2 separate regions of the Homo sapiens genome follow, and region 2 is linked to region 1. Evidence: fine-mapped expression QTL. A gene starts in region 1. The other region holds a variant in brackets. All regions are shown on one strand. Distances are between the middles of the regions.

The links. PIP is the estimated chance that this variant, and not a neighbour inherited with it, causes the effect. A credible set is the group of variants that fine-mapping cannot tell apart.
Region 2: its variant is the best candidate, but not a certain one, in a credible set for the expression of FOSL2 in whole blood (TOPMed, PIP 0.80).

The regions. Positions count from the first base shown.
Region 1 is chr2:28,390,531-28,395,892 of GRCh38, forward strand. It overlaps FOSL2 (FOS like 2, AP-1 transcription factor subunit), which reads left to right and starts at 2,328. Exons shown (of 4, transcript NM_005253.4): 1 at 2,328-3,292. The coding sequence starts at 3,191. It overlaps FOSL2-AS1 (FOSL2 antisense RNA 1), which reads right to left and starts at 4,142. Exons shown (of 2, transcript NR_103831.1): 1 at 4,018-4,142. RefSeq lists silencers at 1,545-2,664, 3,151-3,327 and enhancers at 2,358-3,289, 3,445-3,945, 3,946-4,446.
Region 2 is chr2:28,467,228-28,472,589 of GRCh38, forward strand. No RefSeq gene overlaps it. Among named protein-coding and RNA genes, the nearest start is that of PLB1, 26 kb to the right of the region's middle. The variant C/A (reference allele first, on the strand shown) is at 2,911.

The sequences.
Region 1 (5,362 bases):
CCCCGCCTCTTTCCCCCCGCGTTACTGGAAGGACTGTGTGGGAGAGACCCAGAAGCACCCGGATTTTCGACCGCCAGGTGGGGGAGGGCGGGGCAGCCTCTACTGCTCAAAGGAAAACCAAAAGTGCGTCTGTTCGCGCCGCTCCGACACGCGGTTGCTACTGGGAGGGCTCAGGCAGGGCGCTTTGGCCGCGCCTCCCTTTGCAGCCCCCAAGACTTGGCTAGGGCGGCCTGAGGCCCGCGTGGCGCGGGGAGGGGCTGAGAACCGAGTGGGAAAATGTCACGATTTCTTCTGTGCCCCTCCCGTCCCTACCCCCACCCCCAGTTTTCTGAGTTTTGCTGCTGCCGCTGGGGAAGGACTGATTCGTTTTGCGTCAAAGGACTGCATTTACTCAGTCCTGCTGGGAGAGGCGCGTAAACACCCAGGCAAGCCAGGACGCAGGGATGGGGAGGGGGAAGAAAAAAGCAAAGCACCCACGGCCGGCGCGCGCGTCCGCCTGCCCCACACCCCTCTCCTGGGCCTGCGGAGTTGGGGACTCTGTCCAGCGGGCAGCAGCGGAGGTGCGAGGAGTCTGGCTGGCCTCGCCTCGTCGCGCACGCGCGCGCGTCCTTGGGGATAGCGTTCAGGACAGAATGTGTTTTATAGCTGTAAACAATGACCCCGAGTATTGTTTGGGATTACCGTATCTTGGGGCCCTTGGGGCGGCCAGATGCCGCCAGCCGTCCCGGAAATGCCAGCGCTTTATATAGAGCCCCAGGAAAGCTTCGCGTTCCCGGCTCTATTTTTCTCTGCTACCAACACCCCCACTTTGCAGATAAGGAAACTGAGGACAGAAGTTGTGTGACGGTGCACAGCGAGTTGTCAGCAATGGACTCTCAACACCTCTTAACATTGGGTCCTCATAAGGACCCTGTGGGGTACAGATGGCTGGCGCTACTTAAGAATTGGGTAAACTGAGGCTAACACAGACCCTGGACCAAAACCTAAGTTCCCTGACTTCCGCTACAGTACTTCTCCATTCACACACACCATCATCTCAGCGGAAGGATTGGAGCTCCAGAGCAGAGAAGGGCCTAAGGTCATGTCTCCAAACTCCTTCACTTTATAGGAGGAAACTGAGGCCCAGAGAGGTTAAGGAATTCGTCCAAGATCTCACAGCTCGTAAATAGCGTAGCCGGGCGTTCCTGCTCTAAGGTCTGTGCTCTGTACCCTGCGCCGCGCCCCTCCCAGCCCCGCCCAGCGAGGGAGGAGGACCCAAATGTCCGGCAACCCGCGCCCTGAACTTCGCTCCAAAACAGCTGAAGACGACAACGTTGGGGCACACCCTCTCGCTGGCTTTTTTTTTTTTTTTTTAATTCGTAACAGTCTGGAGTTTGCTTATAAACGCCCGATTACTCTTATTAGATGCGTCCTAATTGCCCGGCGTATAGGGCGGCCGGAATGTCTTGACTGGTTAATTTCATCTTCAAGGCTACTCCTAACGAATTAACTGTAGGACCGAAAACATGAAAAACAAAAAACAAAAAGGGAACCGGTAGGCAGACCGCCACGGAGGGAAAAATAGGCAGGCCAGCCCCGCCCGGCGCCGTGCCCCGCCAACACCCGGCCGCAGGGCGGCGCGGGCACCCTGCGCGCCCGGGGCGCCCGCTGCACTCGGCGGCGCCGCGGAGGGCGCCTACGACCGCGCGCAGCCGCGCCCTCCCTGCGAGCGGCTCTGCGCGCCCGGCTCCCGGCCTCCCGGTGGCGCCGCACCGAACCGCCCGTCTCGCCGTCAGGGCTGTGATTATTTTCTAAAATCCGGAGGCGAGACCCGCGCGGCCGCTCTCGGGGCCCCGCCCCGAGCCCCTTCCCAGGGCGGGGGAGAGGCCGCAGCGCACTCGGGAGCGGGCGAGGGAATCCCTCTCCCTCCACGTCACCCGAAAGCGAGGAAACCCGCACTCGCGTCCTCTAACGCAAATGACCATCTTTGGCAACGTGCGCCAATGGAACAGACCAAGGGCGCTGGGCCCGGGGGGTGAGCGGGGGACTGGGGAGGGCCGGGGCTGCCTCGGCGCCTCCGAACCGTGCGTGGCGCCCGCTCCCGCCCGTGCCACCGCCTGGCTTCCTCGCGCGGGGTGCGCGGTTGGCGTCAGCGCGGCCGGGAGCCGGGGCTGGGAGGGGAGAGCTGCGCCCGCCTCCTCCCCTCCCGCGCCTCTTCCTCCTCCGCGGCCTCCTCCCCCCGCCTCCTCGTGCGCTCCTCCCTGCAAGGTGGAGTCTGGGGTTGACGTGAGTGAATCCACATGGTACAGGGCTGGAGAATAAAGAGTGTGAGTTGAACTCGTGCCATTGTAGTGACTCATCTCGGGCAGAGCGCTAGGGCTCCGAGCGAACCAGCGAGCGAGCGAACGAGCGGCGCTCGGCGGGGACAGAAAGAGGGAGAGAGAGAGAGAGAGAGAGGGAGAGGCGCGGCCGGGCGAGGCGGGCCCGTCCGGGAGCGGGCTCCGGGGAAGGGGTGCGGGTCTGGGCGCCGGAGCGGGGAGCGGGGCCGCGTCCCTCTCAGCGCCAGCTCTACTTGAGCCCCACGAGCCGCTGTCCCCCTGGCGCGCTCGGGGCCGCGGGACGGGCGCACGCCGCCTTCTCCTAGTCAAGTATCCGAGCCGCCCCGAAACTCGGGCGGCGAGTCGGCCACGGGAAGTTTATTCTCCGGCTCCTTTTCTAAAAGGAAGAAACAGAAGTTTCTCCCAGCGGACAGCTTTTCTTTCCGCCTTTTTGGCCCTGTCTGAAATCGGGGGTCCCCAGGGCTGGCAGGCCAGGCTCGCTGGGCTCCTAATCTTTTTTTTAATTTCCAATTTTTGATTGGGCCGTGGGTCCCCGCTGAGCTCCGGCTGCGCGCGGGGGCGGGAGGGCGCGCGCAGGGGAGGGACCGAGAGACGCGCCGACTTTTTAGAGGGAGGGATCGGGTGGACAACTGGTCCCGCGGCGCTCGCAGAGCCGGAAAGAAGTGCTGTAAGGGACGCTCGGGGGACGCTGTTCCTGAGGTGTCGCCGCCTCCCTGTCCTCGCCCTCCGCGGTGGGGGAGAAACCCAGGAGCGAAGCCCAGAGCCCGCGGCGCGGCCGGCGGACGAACGAGCGCGCAGCAGCCGGTGCGCGGCCGCGGCGAGGGCGGGGGAAGAAAAACACCCTGTTTCCTCTCCGGCCCCCACCGCGGATCATGTACCAGGATTATCCCGGGAACTTTGACACCTCGTCCCGGGGCAGCAGCGGCTCTCCTGCGCACGCCGAGTCCTACTCCAGCGGCGGCGGCGGCCAGCAGGTAGGTGCGGGCCCCGGTGCACCTGGCGGCGCGGGCGGACCCCTGCCCTCTTCTCGCCGCCACTGCCTCTTTTGCTTTCTTTTCTTTTTCTTGGCGAGAAAATACCTACGGGCCACCGTTGTAAGTTCTGGATTTTCGTCCTCCCCTTCCCCCCCACCCCCTTTTAAACTAGGGGATTGGAGAGTGGGCTTGAAGAGACAACATGCCCTTTTCCTCTCACGTTATATTTTACCCAGATAGACTCCTGGAATTGTAGGCCCCCTACCAGGAGCCTGTTACCTCCTTCCAAGAACTACTCCCCCTCCCCAGTGTCTGCCCCCCCCCCCCCACCCCTGCCCCGCGTCTTCTCTCTGGGTGGTGGACAGACAAGAAAATCTTTGCACCCACTGGCACCTCTCGACATCCTGGGACCCTATTCCTTCAGGAAAGCCCTCTCTCTCTCCTCCCCGTTCTCCATCAGTCATAACTCCTTTCTGAAAGGGGTTGGGGACCCAGAAACATGGTTGGACTCCTTCAAGTAATCTGGAGCGAGGGCGAGGGCTGCCGCTCTGGGAATCAGGTGCGAAGGTCAGGAAGGAAGAAGCCAGCCTTGGTTGGCTCATGCCGCCTGTGTGCCCCCTGCCTGCCTGCCTGCCCCCCCGCCGACCCGTCTTCTGTAAGGATCACGGACAGGAGGCTGCACTGCCCCCCAGGAACGAAGGAGCACCTTGAGGGTCTGGGGGTACCTGGAGCAAGGAGACCGGCAGAGGGAAGAGGGGGTCGGGTGGGGGAAGAGACATCACGCAGGCTCCTGGGTGGTTCTGGAAGCAGAAAACAACTTGTTTCTAAAGCAGCCGGACTGGTTTGCACTGGAGGGATTGTGCGTGTGATCTCTGTGTTTATAAATACCAGGAAGGTGCTGTTGGCGGGGGGGTGCTGATGGCGTGTCTGCCCTCTGCTGCAGCTCCCCCACCCGCTCTGTCTCGAGAGAGAGCTGGGTTAACGCAGGCCCAATACAACATGAAGCCCACCGTGGTCAGCATCTGTGGAGTCTAGCATAGTTGGCTGCAGCAAGGGATGCTCATGCTCCATAAGGCGGTGGCCTTGGCCTCTAGAAGGGGCTAGGGTGGGCTTCCAGGGAGGGGTGGACTCAGCTGGAAAGAATTTTGGAACGTGGCTCTCTTTTGGATCTGATGGGGGGGTCCCTTGTTCCAAAGTGATTCCCTATACCTGGTGAGTCCCCAAAATGGCTTTTCTGTCTTCCCTCTGCCTCCCATGGTGCTCCTATAAGCACCCACAGTAGAGACAGCCTAGTCTGTTCATTGAGGGTGCAGTCAATGCACCCTTCGTAATGAGCACCAAGGTGATGAGTTTAAAATCCGAAAAGTTGTTGATTATGTTTGCTTCCCAGCCCCGCTAGTGGTTTGTGTTGAATGTAAACATAATGAGGGAATAGGTTGAAGTCTGTACCCACTCCCTCCGTCTCCCGTTCGACAAACCCCAAACGCCTGTCTGTCTCCTCCTCCCTGAAATCAGGAAGGGATCTTTTGATTTCTTCTCTGTTCTTTTCCCTAATGTGTCTTTAGCAGTGATCATTGGAGTATTACAATCTCACTGCCTGGTTTAGCATAGACCCTGGGGCCTGGAGGGAAGTCAGACCGGACATCAGTGCCCCAACTGAATAATCTGTGTCACTAGGGCTTTGAGCCCAGGATGTGAGCGGAGGCAATTCCCGGTTTTGGAAGAAAATCAGACAGGAAACCAGTGCTAGGAAGAAGGAAGAGAACTCAGTCCAGCAGAGTGTAATAGGGCCTCATTACCGAAGCAAAAAGCAGCTGTTGGCTAATTCCTAGCATGCTGTAACACATGAGTATTTTGCAATTAGCAATAACCAGTGCACGGGGTTTCGCATAGACGCCTGCCCATTCGGCCCGGCAGTGTGTGAGGCGCCTTTCAAACCGGAGGGATTGGCAAGGTAATGCCACTTGAGACAAGTTTCTTGGCCTGTCCGCTCCTTGGTGTGGTGGTGGTTGGGTGGGGGACGAGGAGGAACTGGTGGATTTTTCTGTCATTGCTCCAAGTGTGAACAAA
Region 2 (5,362 bases), 77 kb after region 1:
GAAGCTGAAGCAAGATGACAGATCACTTGAGCCCAGGAGGTCAAGACTGCAGTGAGCCATGATCGTGCCACTGCACTCCAGCCTGGGTGACAGAGCAAGACCCTGTCTCAAAAAAAAAAAAAGAAAGAAAGAAAGAAAGAAAATACATAGATACAGAAAGGTGAGGCATATAGAGGGCAAACCTCCCAGCAAGTCAGGACCAAAGCTGAGGTGACATCAGGCTCCTGCCCTCAGCCCCTGAGCTCTTTCTTCTACAGTAGGGCTGGGAAAGAAACATGTGAACCTGGGGTGGGAGCAGCGGGCACTCAGAAGGTGTGGGGTAGTAGGGGACCCAAAGGGTCTTATGCACACTGAGAGGAGTGTGAATATGCCTACATGTGCCATGTGCCATAGCACACGTTCTTTGGAGAAGGCACAAGAGATTCACCAAGTCCCACAGGGATGTAGGGAGCTGTGTAATAATGTGAAACCCTCCTTGGAAATTAAGCCATTCATCAATTCACTCAGCCATTTTGCTAATTTATGAAATGCAGACTTTGGGCCATACCCCGCACCTCTCCTTTGGGGGAGGCAAAGGAGCAGAAGCCAGGCTGGCTGCCTTTTTGGAGCTTTCAGCCCTGGGTAGGGAGAAGAATCAGGCCCACATCTAATCAGGAACCAAAGCAGGACCAATCGAGTGGCAGGTGAAGGGCTCAGGCAGCAAGGGCTTGGGGGTTCAGACACCAGGGTGGTTAGAAAGAGCTTCATGGAGGCAAAGGGCAAGGAGAGGATAGAGTCAGAAGGTGGAGGTCTGGGGCCTGGCCAACAGGCAGAACAGACTATCAGATGTAGTTTGGGATGTCAGGAGAAGGAGCCTTCATTTCACTCCTTCCTTGTACCAATGGGAGGAGTTTAAATTCTAGGTCTTCTTAAATTTTTTAAATTTTAAACATTTTTTGAGACAGGGTCTTTCTCTGTCACCCAGGCGGGAGTGCAGTGGCAGGATCATGGCTCACTACCTCCCAGGCTCAAGGGATCCTTCCACTTCAGCCTCCTGAGTAGATGGGACCACAGGCACACAGTCCAACTATTTTTTTTTTGTAGAGATGGGGTCTCGCCATATTGCCCAGGCTAGTCTTGGACTCCTGTTCTCAAGCAATTCTCCTGCCTCGGCCTCCCAAAATATTGGGATTCTAAGTATGAGCCACCTCTCCTGGCCTCTAGGTCTTAATCTACATTCTAATTCATGGCTTTATTCACTTCAACACATTTTTATTGAGCAGCTACTCAGTGCTGCGCTGCTAGGTGCTGGCAACTGGGGCTATAGAAAGGCAAAGTTCTCAAGGACTCCTGCATCTATACAAAGACAGACCTATGATCCACAAAAGACTGAGGATCAGGGCTATTCTGGGGGCACAGGGTGCCAGTGGGCCTGGCCAGAGGAGGGACACCAAGGAAGTTAGGGGAAATGGCAGGGTGGTTTTCCAGGGGCACGGATTGCATTTGAAGTAAGAGTTATCCAGGCGGGGGAGGAGGGAGGGAAGGGGGTGGTCTCTGCTGAGAAATTACCGTATGCAAAGCCTCATAAATGATGAGTGCTGGGTGCATTTAGTCTAACTGGAGTATGAGGCATAAGGGCATGGTTGGGTAGAGGGCAGGAAAGGGGGCTGGGAGATGAACCCCAGAAATGTCCTTTCCATTTGTCTGGGGGCTCCGGGAGGCTGCTGGACTGCTGATTAACTAATTCCCCAATAAGCCTTCAAGTGAGGCCCAGTCCAGCTGGACAAGAGCTCCCCTTGTCACTGTGTGTGGTGACACCTCTGATTTGCCTGGTCATTTAGTTCTTCTCTTAGGAAGAGGGCTGGATAAGGAGAGACTCTGCTCACCGCCTTGAGTGGGTTCTCTTTGCTTTGAGTTGTGTGGACTTCTGTGAGTAGACACCTACTGTCCTGGGGGAAGGACAGGCATGATGGGACGGTTTGGACCCCGTTCTCACACGTTCCTTTGCAGGTGGAGCTGGAAGGCTGCTGGGAAGGAGGTGTCAGCTGTGCAGTGGCCCTGAGCAGCCTCAGGAACCTGCCTCCTGCTTGCTGGGGACCATGATTTCTCACATCTCTAAGAGATGAAGGCAGATCCTCTGAGGTCAGCTGGTGGGAGAGAACCCTGGGGCCTTAGGAAGGAAACTCTCTGAGCCTGGGAGATGCTGATCCAGTGCCCCTGGCCTAGCCAATCAGGGCCACTCTGGGTGTGCTGGAAAGAGAGGCTTCTCTTCTCTCCCCATCCTTGGAGGGATTTTGGCTGGATACTGGCCAGCAGGCATTGCCTTAGTCATAGTGATGGCAGGGAACTGGGACAGCCCTGGCTGTGTGATTTCCACAGCCACCCCCACAGGGCCTCAATTCTTCAGTTTTCTATCCCAAGGGGACTAGTTGGAAGATCACTGACTGCTTAAACTGAGTAAGTCCCTGGGGGAAGGTGGATTTATGGAAGAGCAAATTCTTGAAAAGGGAGAGCGTGGGCTAAAGCCATGTATTTATTTACTTATTTATTCATTCAATGTTTTGTTTTTTCTTTACTTGTTTAAAAAAAAACACTTCATCTCTTTGAAAAAATAGAAATAATACAGAAATCAACAAAGCCAGAAAAATGTTCCCCCTTGCGGGAAGGGTGAGCTACACACCCTGCCCACAAATAGAATGGGAAATGTATAATTTCCTGAAAAATGGAGCTAAAGCAGGAAAATCGAAGAAGAAGAAGAGGAAGAAGAAGAAGGAGGAGGAGGAGGAGAAGAAAGAGGAGGAGGAGGGAGAAGGGGAAGTGGGATGAAGAGGAGGGGGAAGGGGAGGAGGGGGAGAAAGAGGAGGAGGAAGGGGAGGAGGAGAGGGAGGAGGGGGAGGGGGAGGAAGAGGGGGAGAAGAAAGAGGAAGAGAG[C/A]AGGAGAGGAAGAGGAGGAGGAGGAGGAGGAAGTGGGAGGATATCCTTTCAAAGTTTTTGTTCTGTGCATACAAAAATATGAACACCTTAGGCCTCTTCCCATGCCAATAGTGTAACTCCACCTGGCCTTTGGCACCATTCATTCTGTTTGCACAGCACGAGAAGAAGGTCTGTGAGGAGCAGCCTGGCTGGTGGGCAGGTTCTGTCAGTTGCACGAGCACAGCTTCTTCTTTGGCTGTTATTGGGGGTCATCTCTGCTCAGCCAGGCCTTTCCCTGTCCAAGGTCACTCTGCTGCAGGCACAGGAGGAACCAGAAAAAGGCCAAAGTGGTCTAACACACAGGGGTGAGGTGTGAGGTGAGGTGCTGGGCTGGCCTCAGGGTCGGAAGGCAGGTGCTGGCAGAGAGGCGTTTGTTGGCTTTGGGCACTTCCAGCCACAGGAAGTGTTTGTTCTTTTCAGGACAGGGGAATCCTTATTTCCATTCAACAAAAACATTTTGTATAAGACCAAAAGGGGTGCAAAGAAGAGTTCTAATTGAGAGGAGTTTGCCAGCTCTAAAGAACGTCCAATTTGGGCGCTGTCAGAGAGACTCAGAATGTTCTGAAGCTCCACAGTTGGTGAGAGGGGACCAGAAACACACCCCAATGACAGGCACTCCTGAGGACAGACCAGGAGCAGGTGCTGTGCTGAGCACTCCATATACCTGATTCATTCCATTCTCACCTCTGAGCTAGGGATCGTCCCCTCCTCTCATGAACTGGGAAAGTTTATTACTCATTGAACAGACTCAGAAGGATGTGAAGTGACTTGCCCAGGTCCACATGGTTGGAAAGTGGCCAAGCAGGAATTAAGGGCCAAGGTCTCTGACTCCAAAGTGCACCCTTATGTGCATTTTGCTCTGAGACAGGTGGGGTTCGAGGTGAATCTGGAGGGCAGGAAGGGACTTATCAGGTGAAGGCAGGAGGAAGGCCTTCCAGGCTGAAGGTGCAGCTGGAACGAAGACACAGAGGCAGCGTGGCCCTAGAACTATGTGGCGGGCTCTGAGGGAATCTTTCAGGTTAAGGCTAGAGGGAGGGCTTGGGCTCAGGATGGAGGGCCCTGAGGGTCTGGGAGAGGGGCATGTGACCCTTCCAGAAGGCCACAGGCATCATGGGTGAAGGGAAGAGGCCCAAGCTGACAGCACTGAGGAGAAGCCCGGTGATGAGGGGAGGAAGGGAAGAAGCCAATGAAGAGTGCAGGAGGAGGAGCCTGCTGGGATATGGGCGGGAGCCAGGGCGGGGGAGGATCTGCCTCCCTCATGTGGCCACCACAGTGTTCTCAGGGATGAACTGCCTAGAAAGGCTTGTCCCAGGCTGAAGGTCCAGCTGGCAGAGCCCAGGGAGAAGCCCAAGGGCACCCATCATGCCAGCGAAGAGAGCAAGAGGCCAGCTGTGAGGGTGACAGGAAGAGGGAGAAAGGAGTTTGTGAACGGTTCAGGTAGGAGATGACCCTTTATCGATTTGGTTGTGGGGATGGAGAAGGGTGAGGTGTGATAAAAGCTGCAGTGCAATGCTTGGATCCTTCCCACAGCCCCCGCCCTGGCCAGGATGTGCTGTGTGTCTGTGTATCCAGGCATCCTAGTTAGGGCTGAAGGGACCCTCCTCGGGGAACATGTTCCTACAGGATGACATCTGTCCAATGTGGTTTTGGACCTGTGGTGCTGGCTGGTCCTGGGCCCAGGTCTGTGGGCCTGGATGGAATGAAGCAGCCACACCTGTGTCACCCCATCTCTGGGAAGCCCCACCCCACCTGGTCAGACATGCCAGGCCAACCCCATACCCATCTTGTCATACCTGAGCTCCATGCCGCTGCCCCAGCTCCTCCAGCAAGGGCACATCACCCTTTCAAGGCCTCCTCCAATCTCCCCTCCCCAGGCAGCTGCCCCCAGAGTCCCACTTGCACTTGGTGCCTCTGTGTACATTTCCATGCACTTTCCTGTTATGTTTCTAGACTTTATTATTTTCTGAGTACGTTCATCTTATCTCTCCAGAGATGATGAGATCCTTGAGGGCAGGCATCACATCTTGTCTCTTTTTTGTCTTCCACATAACACCTAAAATGGGTTTGGCTCACTGAAGGCCCAACACTCACAGAATGTTGAATGAATAGGAATTTCCTTCCACCCACACATGGGCCCTGTGGCTTTGGGGGTGTGACCCCAAAACATGCCCATGGGATGTGGTGAGATATAAGTGAAGACAGGGGCCCAGGGAGGATATAAGTGAAGACAGGGGCAGGGACGTCTCCTCCATGATGGTGCTCTGGAATGATGCTCAGCAGGGGAGGGACCTTGGTGATGATCTCTTCCTCTTTACTGATGGACAAATAAAAGTCCCAGTGAGAGGTGACAGCGTGCTGGCAGCCCTGGCAGCCCTCAGCTCATTCTTGGTGCCTCCTTGGCCTTGGTGCCCAC